Linked DNA regions of Homo sapiens. The protein of the gene in region 1 interacts with the protein of each later gene in a pairwise test. Each region holds a gene or a part of one and is shown on either strand. Other genes may lie near its edges. The genes, in order: L3MBTL3, ASB6 and TTC19.

Region 1 (3,749 bases):
TCCTGTGAGCCTCTGGTCACATTTTTGTCTACTGATCAGTGTGTAACCTTGTTTTATGTGTGTTTCTGTTTAAAGACACCTCATTTAATGTATATCGTTCATTCATTAAAAATTGAACTCACAAGTAAGAGCACTATCACTCCTGCCTGATGAAGCTTATCTAGCACAAGTATCTTCTCTGTAAGGCAACATCACAACCTTTTGGCACTTAGGGACACTAAACAACACCTCAGCACTATGTCAGGGGCCATTTTAAACAGTAACATCACCCAAGAAAAGCACAAAAATGTAGAATATGTGGCACTAAATGGACCACACAAAAGACACTTATTCCCAGTACGAGAACTGAAACAGGAAGGTAAAGCTCCTTCTTGATTGACTTCAGCTGGGAACATGCATGTTGAGTGACTCAAAAGTGTTGTCAGTCTGTGCATGTCCACGAACACTGCGAGTATTATTTTGGGGTTACAAATAAATTGTAGCAAGTAGATGACTTCACAAACGTGGAATACAGTATGTGAATAATGAAGACTGGCGGTATGTCATTTTTTCCTTCCCATCACCATTTACTAGACTTGGTTAGGTGGAGACAAGATGGATACCTGAAATGATAGAATGTCACCAGGCAAATATTTTGCAAAGGATATCAGGGCAGAAATTTTAAAATGTTGGCAAGAAAATGTTTTTTAAATGATTGCTAGGAAAGGAAGGCTTGGGGTGAGGAGAGCTGCTAGGGAGGAAGTAAAAGGATCAGTGTGAGACTAGAGTTTCTGTTGAGATTGAGGAAGAGGCATCTGGGGGTAACTGGGTTTGCAGACTGGAATAGGAGTATGTGTCCCAGGGTTGGATTTTTAAATTTAATACTAAGAAGCAGAGCAGTTCTTGTTGGGGACTAGATTCATGGGAGTGAGGGCTTGAAGTAGAGAGGAAGGGAGTCAAAATGCCAGGGTATTGGATAAGTCATCCATATGGATGACGAAAGTACTCAGATGGAAAGGAAGAGAATAAGCCAGGGCTAAGTGTTTGGGTGGTTAGCATGGGGGAAGAAGAGGAGGAGAGTTGCTTCAGCCATATGGCTCGAGCCTCGGCAGGGGAGAACTGGCCTAGGATCCATGGTGTGGTGGGAGGCAGCAACCCGTCCTGTGTCTATGGGAGGTAGAGTTGGGAACATGAGCACCCTTGGGGAAAGGCTTGAGAAGGACGAGCTAGGTATGACTGTGGGCAAGGAGGGTGAGGATGTAGGAGATTGTTTCTCAAAGCATAGCTTTCCGGTGAGCCTGAGATAGAGACTATGGGGAGAACAGAGAGAGCTTGGCTCAAGGGAGCAGAAGCTCAGAACGGTGTGCCCACAAGGAACTAGAGGCTGTAAATTACTATAGGGCTGAGCTCTTAGGATCGGCCAGATATAGCTGACTGTGAGAGAGAGGAGAGAAGCAGCCTTCTTTGCATGGGGTGGCTGTAGGGAGTGGGGGTAGCTCCTGCTTTACCTGAGAGATTGTATTTCCCAGGGATTCCAGTCTCAGCTGTATGGAGAGACTCTGTTCTCTCTGGGGGGAGTCAGCTTAGTTGTAAATTTGATGTATGTGGTATATCAATACATTCTAATTGAAAAAATGCTGATACATAAAAGAAAATATGAAAAGTCCATCATTCCCATTTTGCCCCTTCCTTTTCACTACCACTTCCTAGAAGAAATCATTATTAACATTTTGGCAAATATACCTCCGGACTTCTTTTTACTATGTGTTTACATATGTATGCATATGTGTGTATATTAATGTATGTATATAAATGCATATACTTATGTATATACACATAATACACATATGTATACATAATCATATACCCATAAATACATGTGGACCCCCACATGTCTAATTTTCTCATAAACTTAACTCATTCTGTGTTATGTGTTCTACCACTTGAATTTTAACTATATGTTTTAGAGAACTTTCCATGACAGTAACTGTACAGCTACCTCACTATTTGAGGATTAATTGCCCTGGCTCTGCACTCTGGTCTAAGTTCATCATTCAGGGTTCTGCAGGACAGACACTCCTGGAGCGGGTAGAGGTCTGGCGTGATACGTGTTTCTACTTGAACACATCTTCTTGTGTTAGTGGGAAGAAGTCTCAGGGGCTGAACCCTCTCTCTAAGAATCCAGGGCAGGGTATGATCCAACTCAGGTCTCGTAAGCCTATATGACCTTCTAAATCAGAATGTCTCTAAGTGGGGCCCTGTAGGCATATGTATGGCATGTGTTATACAGAGTACATTCTTACTAGCATTCTTAGGAGCCTGTCTCATCCAAGTAATAAACTAGGAGAGACGCTTTTCTTTCTTTCTTCCAACCCAGCTTTGGTGGAGAAAAAAAGCTTGACTTCTGTGCATATGCACCAGCTGTGGTCTGCAGCCTTCAGTGCAGGGCAGACTGTCCACTCTGGGGCCATGCTAGAGCTGAGTGTGCTGTGCTGGTGTGCCTTCCAGCTTACCCTGGGGACACATCTTGGTACAACATAGGGAGTGGAGAAAGGACCTGCAATTGTGGGATATTATGCTTTGCCCCCTATCCGTGTGGTTGTAATGTAACTGAGAATGTTGCCAGAATGCCACAGCTCAGCTCTTCCCACTTTAATAGCTTTTGTCTTTAGATTCTGGTTATTTGTTTAGTTGTTTTATTACTGTTAATGTGGGTGGTTTGATTAACATTAAGACTATATCATGCCTGGTGTCCATGTTTATTTTTGTGTATATATATATATATATGAATATTCTGAGTTAAAAAAAATAATTCAACCTATTTTACCTGTTTCAGGTTTGTGGATACCGGATAAAGCTTCACTTTGATGGGTATTCTGATTGCTATGACTTCTGGGTGAATGCAGACGCTCTGGATATCCACCCAGTTGGGTGGTGTGAGAAAACCGGCCACAAACTCCATCCTCCAAAAGGTTTTGTCACTTTTTGTTTGATATTTTAAATTCAGTAAAAACTCATTTTCTTACATGCTACATTAGAATTGTTAAGAATTCAGACTTTATGAAAATTCAGATAGGCACAAATTTAACCTTATTGTTTATGATGAAACCATGTTTATTAAAGTTAAAGAAATAAAAGCAGAATCCAGCCTAGGAAAATAAAGTATGTTCATATGCTTATTTTCATGTAAAATAACATTTGCATGATACTCAACTTTGACTACAAATAATGTTTACCTGCAAATTTCTATTATTAAATACATACATCTTTGAAAAAACTGATTTGAAAAATTAGTTTAAATTAGTTTATATAACTAAGTTTAGTGTTAACTGGTTTAAACTAATTTTTCAAATCAGTTTTTCATTATATAGAAAATCCTGAGAAATTATGCTTGACCGTATAGATCTTAATATTTAGGAGATTGGCAAGAAGACTGTAACACTAAAAATTGGCTTAGGTGGGGGGTTGAACTCATAGCAATTACTTTTCTTATATTTGAGTACTTTATATTATAGTCCCCCAGTGATTTTCCTATTTCATGTTTATATCAAAGTTCAAGAATAACAGATATCGTCTTTTTCACTGTCTGCCTAAAGTATTCCCTAATTTTTTTTTGAGACGGAGTCTTGCTGTGTCGCCCAGGTTGCAGTGCAGTGGTGTGATATTGGCTCACTGCAGCCACTGCCTAGCAGGTTCAAGTGATTCTCCTACCTCAGCCTCCCGAATAGCTGGGATTACAGGTGCCTGCCACCATGCCTGGCTGATTTTTG
Region 2 (3,749 bases), on another chromosome or scaffold:
AGCCATCTTGAGCAGGGCGTTGCTCACGCCTTCCTGGTAAAAGGGAGAGTGGGCTTTCCTCTCCAGCAGCTCAGTGAGAACAAGGATTCGGCTCTCCTCGCTGGCGACATAACTGGGCCTGGGACAGGAGAGAGGCTGAGGGTAGGCACAGCTGTGGGACCGGGTGACCGCGCAGCCTGTGGGTTGGTGGGCTTTAGTCCTGCTATCATCATCAGCAAGCAGGGCCCTGGCTCTGTGGGTCACAGGGGCTTGGGGGAAGCTCTGAAGTAGAGAGAGGGCCACGCTGCATCTCTTAATACGGGAGCAGACTGGGATTTGCGGAGAATGGGCTGGGTCTGTCTGCGCTCTCCTCCCGCGTTGCCCAGAGTCCGGTCGCAGACTTAGGTACAAAGCCTCACACACCTGGGCTGCTGGGACTGAAGGGACCACCAGCCTGGAGGCCAAGAGCCCAAGCCCGACTTTGATGCTTCTTCCTCAGAAAGCCCTTCCATCCTCAAACCCGCAGGACCCCAGCCCCGGCAACACCTGCAGCCAGGACAGCAACACAGCCTCCTCCCTCCCCTCACATTGAGACCTTCAGCTGATATTGATGAAGAAAGCCTACGTTTCCACCAGAGTCCCTGGATGGCGAGACTCATCATTACCACGTGTTGGAAATACCAACTGACAACCCCCTCAACACCTGAGCCGAGCCCCTTCCTTCTGCTCTCCCCTCCCTTCCACCTCGCGTGCCGCCGTACAATTACTTGTCAGTCTCTCCTCTGGAGCACATGCGCCAAGAAGGCGGGGGTTTTGCTGAGCCACTGATGGACCCCAGGTGCCTAGTACCATGGGCAGTGAATGCAGATTCGCTCCCGACCCCTTTCCTGCAGGTCCACGACAGACCAGCTCTTGTCTATAAAAACGCAAACTCTGCTACAAAAGCCCACCTTCACACTGCTCTGGGGTAACATCTGAGGCCTCACGGATTCCACCCTGCTCCTCTGCCACGCCGGGGGGTGGCACAGGACAGGCAGGCGACAGGGTGGGGCTGAGGCGCAGGCCCTGCGACAACCCGCGGGCCTCCGCCCTCGGGCCCTCCCCGCCCTTCGTCTCCGCCATGCAAGGGGCAGGAGTGGGATCCGCGCGGGGCAGCGCGCACTCCGAGCCACGCAACCCCGGCTTCCGCCCGTCCCTTCCTCTGTCAAGGGGGACGCATCCACCCCGCCCGGCTTGTGGTGATAAAGTGGGACGCTGCGGGGTCGGAGCGGCCTCGGCCAGCTCACGGGAGGGGGTGAGTTACCGGTCCAGAGACTCCTGCCGCTCGGGGTCCTGGATCCCCAGGGAGCCCAGAATCGCATCCACCAGCGGCTGGTACTCGAAGATGATCCTCCGGAAGCCGTGCAGGAACGGCATCGCCGCGGGCCCCGCGCAGCAGGGCCGTCGCGCTTTCTGCCGAGGCCGAGATGCCCAGACGCCGACCGGAACGCTCCGGCGGCCGCGGACCCCACCTGCTCCGCCAGTCCAGCCCCTGCGCCCGGCCGGGTCCGCTCCTCAGTCCAAGCCGCGCCCCCGCCGGAAGTGACCCTCGTACTTCCTGCCCGCGCCGACTCAGGGTGGGCCATATGGCGACAGCGCCCCCTGCGGGCTCGGAGGACCTCGGCGCGTCCTGGGGCACGACCGCCAGGCCGACTCGGGCGATGTCCAGTGGGCGGCCCCAGCGGAGTGGGAGAGTGGAGGATCGAGCCAAGCCAGATCCGAGACTCAGGCGGGTCCGCCCCTTCCTGCCAGGGCCCGGCCCGGCTCGGCTTCGCCCTGCGATCCCGCCCGCGACCGCTGGGCGCCGTCCGAGTTCCGCCGGTCGTGCTCTCGGCCCTGCCGCTGCCCCACTGGCCCTGGGCGCCCCTGAGAGCTGTGGTCATCAGACACTGCCCCTTCCGGTTCGGGCTGGCCCTCGCCTTCCCTGAAGAGGGGCTGGGCCACCTCTGTCACCACCCGGCCCGCTGACTGGAATGATGAGGACCAGGGTACTCGCACGTCCCCTCCTCAGTTTCTTATTCTCTGTCCCGGGGAGCACCTGGCCAGGACGGCTGCTAGCCCTCTCCACCTCTGCCTTGATGGACTCAGTGAATCTTGTTTTTTGTTGTTGTTGTTTTTGTTTTTTTGGGGGACGTAGTCTCGCTCTGTTGCCCAGGCTGGAGTGCAATGGCACGATCTCGGCTCACTGCAACCTCCGCCTCCCGGGTTCAAGCGATTCTCCTGCCTCAGCCTCCCGAGTAGCTGGGATTACAGGCGCTGGCCACCACGCCCAGCTTATTCTTGTATTTTTAGTAGAGACAGGGTTTCACCATATTGGCCAGGCTGGTCTCGAACTCCTGACCTCGTGATCCTCCCACCTCGGCCTCCCAAAGTGCTGGGATTACAGGCATGAGCCACGGTGCCCAGCCCGAATCTTGTGTATTTTTTAGAGACAGGGTCTCACTCTGTCTCCCAGGCTGGAGTGTAGTGTAGTGATCATGACTCACTGCAGCTTTGAACCCCTGGGCTCAGGTGATCCTCCCGCCTCAGCCTCCCGAGAAGCTGGGAACACAGGAGTGTGCTACCGCCTGTCTCTGAACTTGGATTTCCTCATCTGTAAAATGGGTAGAATCCCCAGCACTTTGAGAGGCCGAGGCAGGTGGATCACCTGAGGTCAGAAGTTCGAAGCTGCAGACCGGCCTGGCCAATATGATGAAACCCTGTCTCTACTAAAAATACAAAAATTACCCGGGCGTGGTGGCAGGCGCCTGTAATCCCAGCTACTTGGGAGGCTGAGGCAGGAGAATTGCTTGAACCCGGGAGGCGGAGGTTGCAGTGAGTGGAGATCGCACCATCACACTCCAGCCTGGGCAATAAGAACGAAACTCTGTCTCAAAAAGAAAAAAAAAAAGTATAATCACACTCACCTGAGATGCTGGAGCCAGCGCACTGTAATTGTTGGTGGAAGTGGAATTCAGTGGGAAGGAGCCAAAACCCTCTGGTTCAGGAAGAAGGGGCGGAGTGGGCAGCCGGGTTTAAGCCCCTTTAGGGCAACACCAGCTTGGGCTTCCTAGAAGCAGCTCCAGGCCGCAGAGTCCACAGCTGCCAGCACGTTTCTGCCTTGGTTCTCGCTGTAGGAAAGAAATTTCTCCCTGGGTGAAATCGGGAAATTCTGCTCACATGGAAATGGACATTTCCAGCTTGCCTTGGAAAAACCACTTTTCTGGAGTCGAGGCACCTCCCCTTGGGCCATGCATTTGAGCCTCCTCTCCCACCTGGAGTCTGCGTGGGGGGGCCTTGATGCCTTCTTGCTTCTGGGAAGCTGATGATGAAGAGGGGTTTCCCGCCCCAGCAGTCCACATCACAGCGTTGGCCTCCTGGGCCTTGCTCTGCCAAGTTGGGCCCCTCTCCCTGGAACCTGCCAGACAGCGAGAGTTGCCCAGCCCAGGAAAAAAACATTTAAAGGCGCATTTCAAGACAATCCGATGGGTCTTAGAGTAAACATTTTTATATTTATTTATTTATTATTATTATTATTATTATTTTTCAGACGGAGTCTCACTCTGTTGCCTAAGCTGGAGTGCAGTGGCAGGATCTCGGCTCACTGCAACCTCCAACCCCTGGGTTCAAGCCTACCAGGTAGCTGGAATTACAGGCATGCGCTACCACGCCAGGCTAATTTTTGTATTTTTAGTAGAGACGGGGTTTCACCATGTTGGCCAGGCTATTCTCGAACTCCTGACCTCAGGTGA
Region 3 (3,749 bases), on another chromosome or scaffold:
ACACAGTATTCTAAACTGAAAAACAATTTGTAATTTGCTTTCAGATGGCCAACTTAGCATTTATACGGGGTCAGCTTGAAAATGTAAGTAAATTGCTTTGTAATATCTTGAATTTATGAAGGAGTAGCTTCAAGGGAACTGTAATAGTAAGAGTACAGGCTAAGCTGCTATAACAAAGAGACCCTAGAATATAGTGACTCAAACAAGATAAAAGTGTATTTCTCTTTATTGTGTTAGTCCAGAGATAGGCTAAAGACTGAAGGCAGACAGACATAGGCACCTTTGCTCTCTGATCCAGAAGTCCAGGTTTCTTCTAAGATAAGCCCTCCTCTGCCTAGGTGAGCTGACTCACCTCCAGTCTGCAGGAAGGGGGAGAAGATGGACTGTGAGCAGCTTCCTTATAAAACATGATTAGAAGTTCACGTTCTTTCTGCCTGCATCCCTTGGCCTAAATTTTATCATATGACCATATCTAACTTAAGGGTGTCCAATCTGCTAAAATTGACTGAATTTTTTTTTTAAGATAAGGTCTTGCTCTGTTGCCCAGGTTGGAGTGCGGTGGCTTAATCATGGCTGACTGCAACCTCGACCTGCCAGGCTCAGTTGATCCTCTCACCTCAGCCTCCTGAGTAGCTGGGATTCCAGGCGTGTGCCACAACACTTGGCTAATTTTCTTATTTATTTATTTATTTATTTATTTATTTATTGTAGAGACGGGATTTCACCATATTTCCCAGGCTAAATCGAGGGGACTCTGTAATCAAAAAGATGGAGAAGAGAATGACTATTAGGAGACAGTTTGTAGTCTCTGCCACAGTGGGTTTGGATAAGAACTTAATCTCTGAGGTTGTTTTCTACTCATCAGAGAGTAGTTTAAGGTACACAGAGGATGTTGAGGGTCCTGATATTTTGATCTGTTTTCGCTTCAAAAGGGTACTTTTCTGTGTGTGAGTGTGCGTGTGTGTGGGTATATGGGTTTTACAAGGAATGTTGCATCAGACTGGCACTTAGAATCCAGGGTCATATATATATATATAAAATGGGGCCCAATTAAAAGAAAAATCTTTTCCTTATGCTTTTAGGCTGAACAACTTTTTAAAGCAACAATGAGTTACCTCCTTGGAGGGGGCATGAAGCAGGTAAGGACATTGCCTAGTATTGGCCCCTCACTGAAGCAGTTTTCAAAACAGTCTTGTCTCCTGAAAACTCCTCCTAGCCCCACCACATGCTTTGGTCAGGAAAGGTGGAGTTTCCCTTCTGAGATCTCTATACAAATTGCCATTCTTTCACTAAATGCAACAGCATGCTTGCCAAGGAATTCACAGTTGGCTCATCACTCTAAAAGAATAAAGACTGTGGCTTTGAGGCCACCGTCAGTCTGGAAGTTGATCTGAAATATGCCATGAAAAAATTTACTTGTTATGAGTTCCCTTCATTCTCTTTCTCTCACAGGAGGACAATGCAATAATTGAAATTTCCCTAAAGCTGGCCAGTATCTATGCTGCGCAGAACAGGTAAGTACAGCAGCCAGGGAGTAGGACTGTGGGCAGGAAACTTTGACTCTGGGATGTTACATAATATTCATTGTCTACTGGTCATCTGGGTCTCCCAGAAATTGGGTGTCACACTCAAAGTGTTCCATCCCTCATCTTTGAAATTGTCAGTCTTTTTCCAGTTTGCCCCTACTGTTTCCATCAGCCTGCCTAGTGGGGCACACAACATCTCTGGCTGCCCTGTGACAAAACTAACTAAGTTTTCTGTTGCTGCTTGAAGTGGGAAGGGAAGTTAGAGTTAGAACTTTAGTTTAACTTTTCCTAGAAGAGGAAAGAGCAGTGTGAAAGCTGCTGGGGATAATATATTAATACTCTGAAGAAGCCATTTTGCTGGTATAAATAGAGTTCAAAGATGAAGCATCTAGGTTGTAAGCAGAGAACTCCTCTAGAGAGTTGTATTTGGGATGAATTTAGGGAGAGACCTAAGACTAGCTTCCCTTCAGGTTTTAGTGGTGCAGAAGTTGGTGCGAGAGGTTTGGAGTGACATGGAGCCTGATGCTGTAGAAAGGGTGCTCACTGAGGCCAGGCCCTGGCACTGTTCCCTACTGTCCTACTCACCAGCTCCTTTGTTCTCATCAGGACCTGCATAGTCTCCTTGCATTTTGATTGGACACTAGATAGGCTAGAGCTTCCTGGAGCCTTTGACTTCAAGTCTTTTGAGGAGCTTTGAGCTTGGCCCATGCCAGGGAACACTGCAGCTTGGTCAATCTTTCTTGGAGTTGTAACAAACATGCCTAGTTCTTGATTGGGTATGAATCCCTAGGGTAAGAAGAAGCCCAGAGCCTAATAAACATTGTTGAGTAAGACAAATTCATAGTCTTCTAGAGGTGAAAGCTAGTAACAATTAGCCTCTGAGTTACATGGTACTCTGTACTTTTCATTTTGTTTTATTAAGAGAAGCATGAGACTAGAAAAGACATGGCCAGATCTGAGGCTTCGAAAGGCTGATATAGGTTATGAGGGGAATTGTTTGTAGACCTCTTGCTCCGACTGGGAGCGTCTTCTGGGCAGTGTCCACTTGCCCTGTGTTATGGCTAGAGAGGGCCCTCTTGCCAAGTTTTGAGCGTAGGGAAGGAAGGGGATGCTTCTGTTCTTCTGAGAACAGAGCAGAACAGTAGGGTCATAAGTTCTCCCCTGGCAAAGCACTAGAGAACAGGTGAGCTTTTTAGTGCCACTTCTGTAAGAAACTAGAGCCAAAACTGAAGAAAAGAACCAAAGCTGAGCTCCTAAATGGAGAAGGGATTTCTGTCACATTTCCTCTGCATCTCTGTAAAAAGCAGCAGTCAGTCGGCCTGCTTGGGTTGACTCAACCCTCTCCAGTTGATTGAGGGTCCAGGGCTACAGAGTTGGGTTAAATGACTTCTATTGCCATAGCTAGGAGTCCCATTTCTGCAAAAGAAACTTTTATCAGAGACTTATAGCTTGAAAGAAATATAAAATGACTAAAGCTCCTCAGAAGCTGTATGAGGTCAACAGTTGGAATCCTCACTGTAGGGCGGCCTGAACTGTTTAGGGTAGTATTACTTTGAACAGGGGTAAGGCTTTCACACATGGAGAAGTTGATTCACTGGAGGCCATCTGTTAGTGGGAGATGATGAATACTGCTGGCTATGTCAGTTATTAAAATTAGGGCAGCATTCCTAGCTTTTTGTGTCCTAAGTTATATTAAATGGATGACTTAAAAAAACTGCTTTGAGAAATGGCAGATTTGACACTACTTAGACTTTAAGCAAAGTTCCCTCTTCCCATTTTACACTTCCTTTACTGATAATGTTTAAACTGAGCTGGAAAAATGAAGATAAAAAGAATTTGTGAAAAGGTAAATGGGCCGGGCGCAGTGGCTCACGCCTGTAATCCCACCACTTTGGGAGGCCGAGGTGGGTGGATCACTTAAGGTCAGGAGTTCCAGACCAGCCTGGCCAACATGGTGAAACTCTGTCTTTACCAAAAATACAAAAATTAGCTGGGCATAGTGGCGGGCACCTGTAATCCCAGCTATTCGAGAGGCTAAGGCAGGAGAATCGCTTGAACCCCGGAGGTGGAGGTTGCTCTGAGCCGAGGTCACGCCATTGCACTCCAGCCTGGGCAACAAGAGCGAAACTCCATCTCAACAGAAGGAAGAAAAAAAAAAGAAGAAAAGGTAAATGGCTGATTATTGATTTTGCTTTACAGACAGGAATTTGCTGTTGCTGGCTA

What was found.
Region 2: the proteins of L3MBTL3 (region 1) and ASB6 interact in binary tests that used the Homo sapiens proteins (3 or more experiments, as listed by UniProt).
Region 3: the proteins of L3MBTL3 (region 1) and TTC19 interact in binary tests that used the Homo sapiens proteins (3 or more experiments, as listed by UniProt).

Annotation. Positions count from the first base shown.
Region 1 is NC_000006.12:130,063,538-130,067,286, forward strand, and holds part of L3MBTL3 (lethal(3)malignant brain tumor-like protein 3), read left to right. Parts: intron 1-2,815; coding exon 2,816-2,951; intron 2,952-3,749. UniProt on the Homo sapiens protein: Is a negative regulator of Notch target genes expression, required for RBPJ-mediated transcriptional repression. It recruits KDM1A to Notch-responsive elements and promotes KDM1A-mediated H3K4me demethylation.
Region 2 is NC_000009.12:129,640,605-129,644,353, forward strand, and holds the start of ASB6 (ankyrin repeat and SOCS box protein 6), read right to left. Parts: upstream 1,548-3,749; 5' UTR 1,396-1,547; coding exon 1,283-1,395; intron 119-1,282; coding exon 1-118. UniProt on the Homo sapiens protein: Probable substrate-recognition component of a SCF-like ECS (Elongin-Cullin-SOCS-box protein) E3 ubiquitin-protein ligase complex which mediates the ubiquitination and subsequent proteasomal degradation of target proteins.
Region 3 is NC_000017.11:16,002,749-16,006,497, forward strand, and holds part of TTC19 (tetratricopeptide repeat protein 19, mitochondrial isoform 1 precursor), read left to right. Parts: intron 1-44; coding exon 45-83; intron 84-1,082; coding exon 1,083-1,139; intron 1,140-1,452; coding exon 1,453-1,514; intron 1,515-3,725; coding exon 3,726-3,749. UniProt on the Homo sapiens protein: Required for the preservation of the structural and functional integrity of mitochondrial respiratory complex III by allowing the physiological turnover of the Rieske protein UQCRFS1.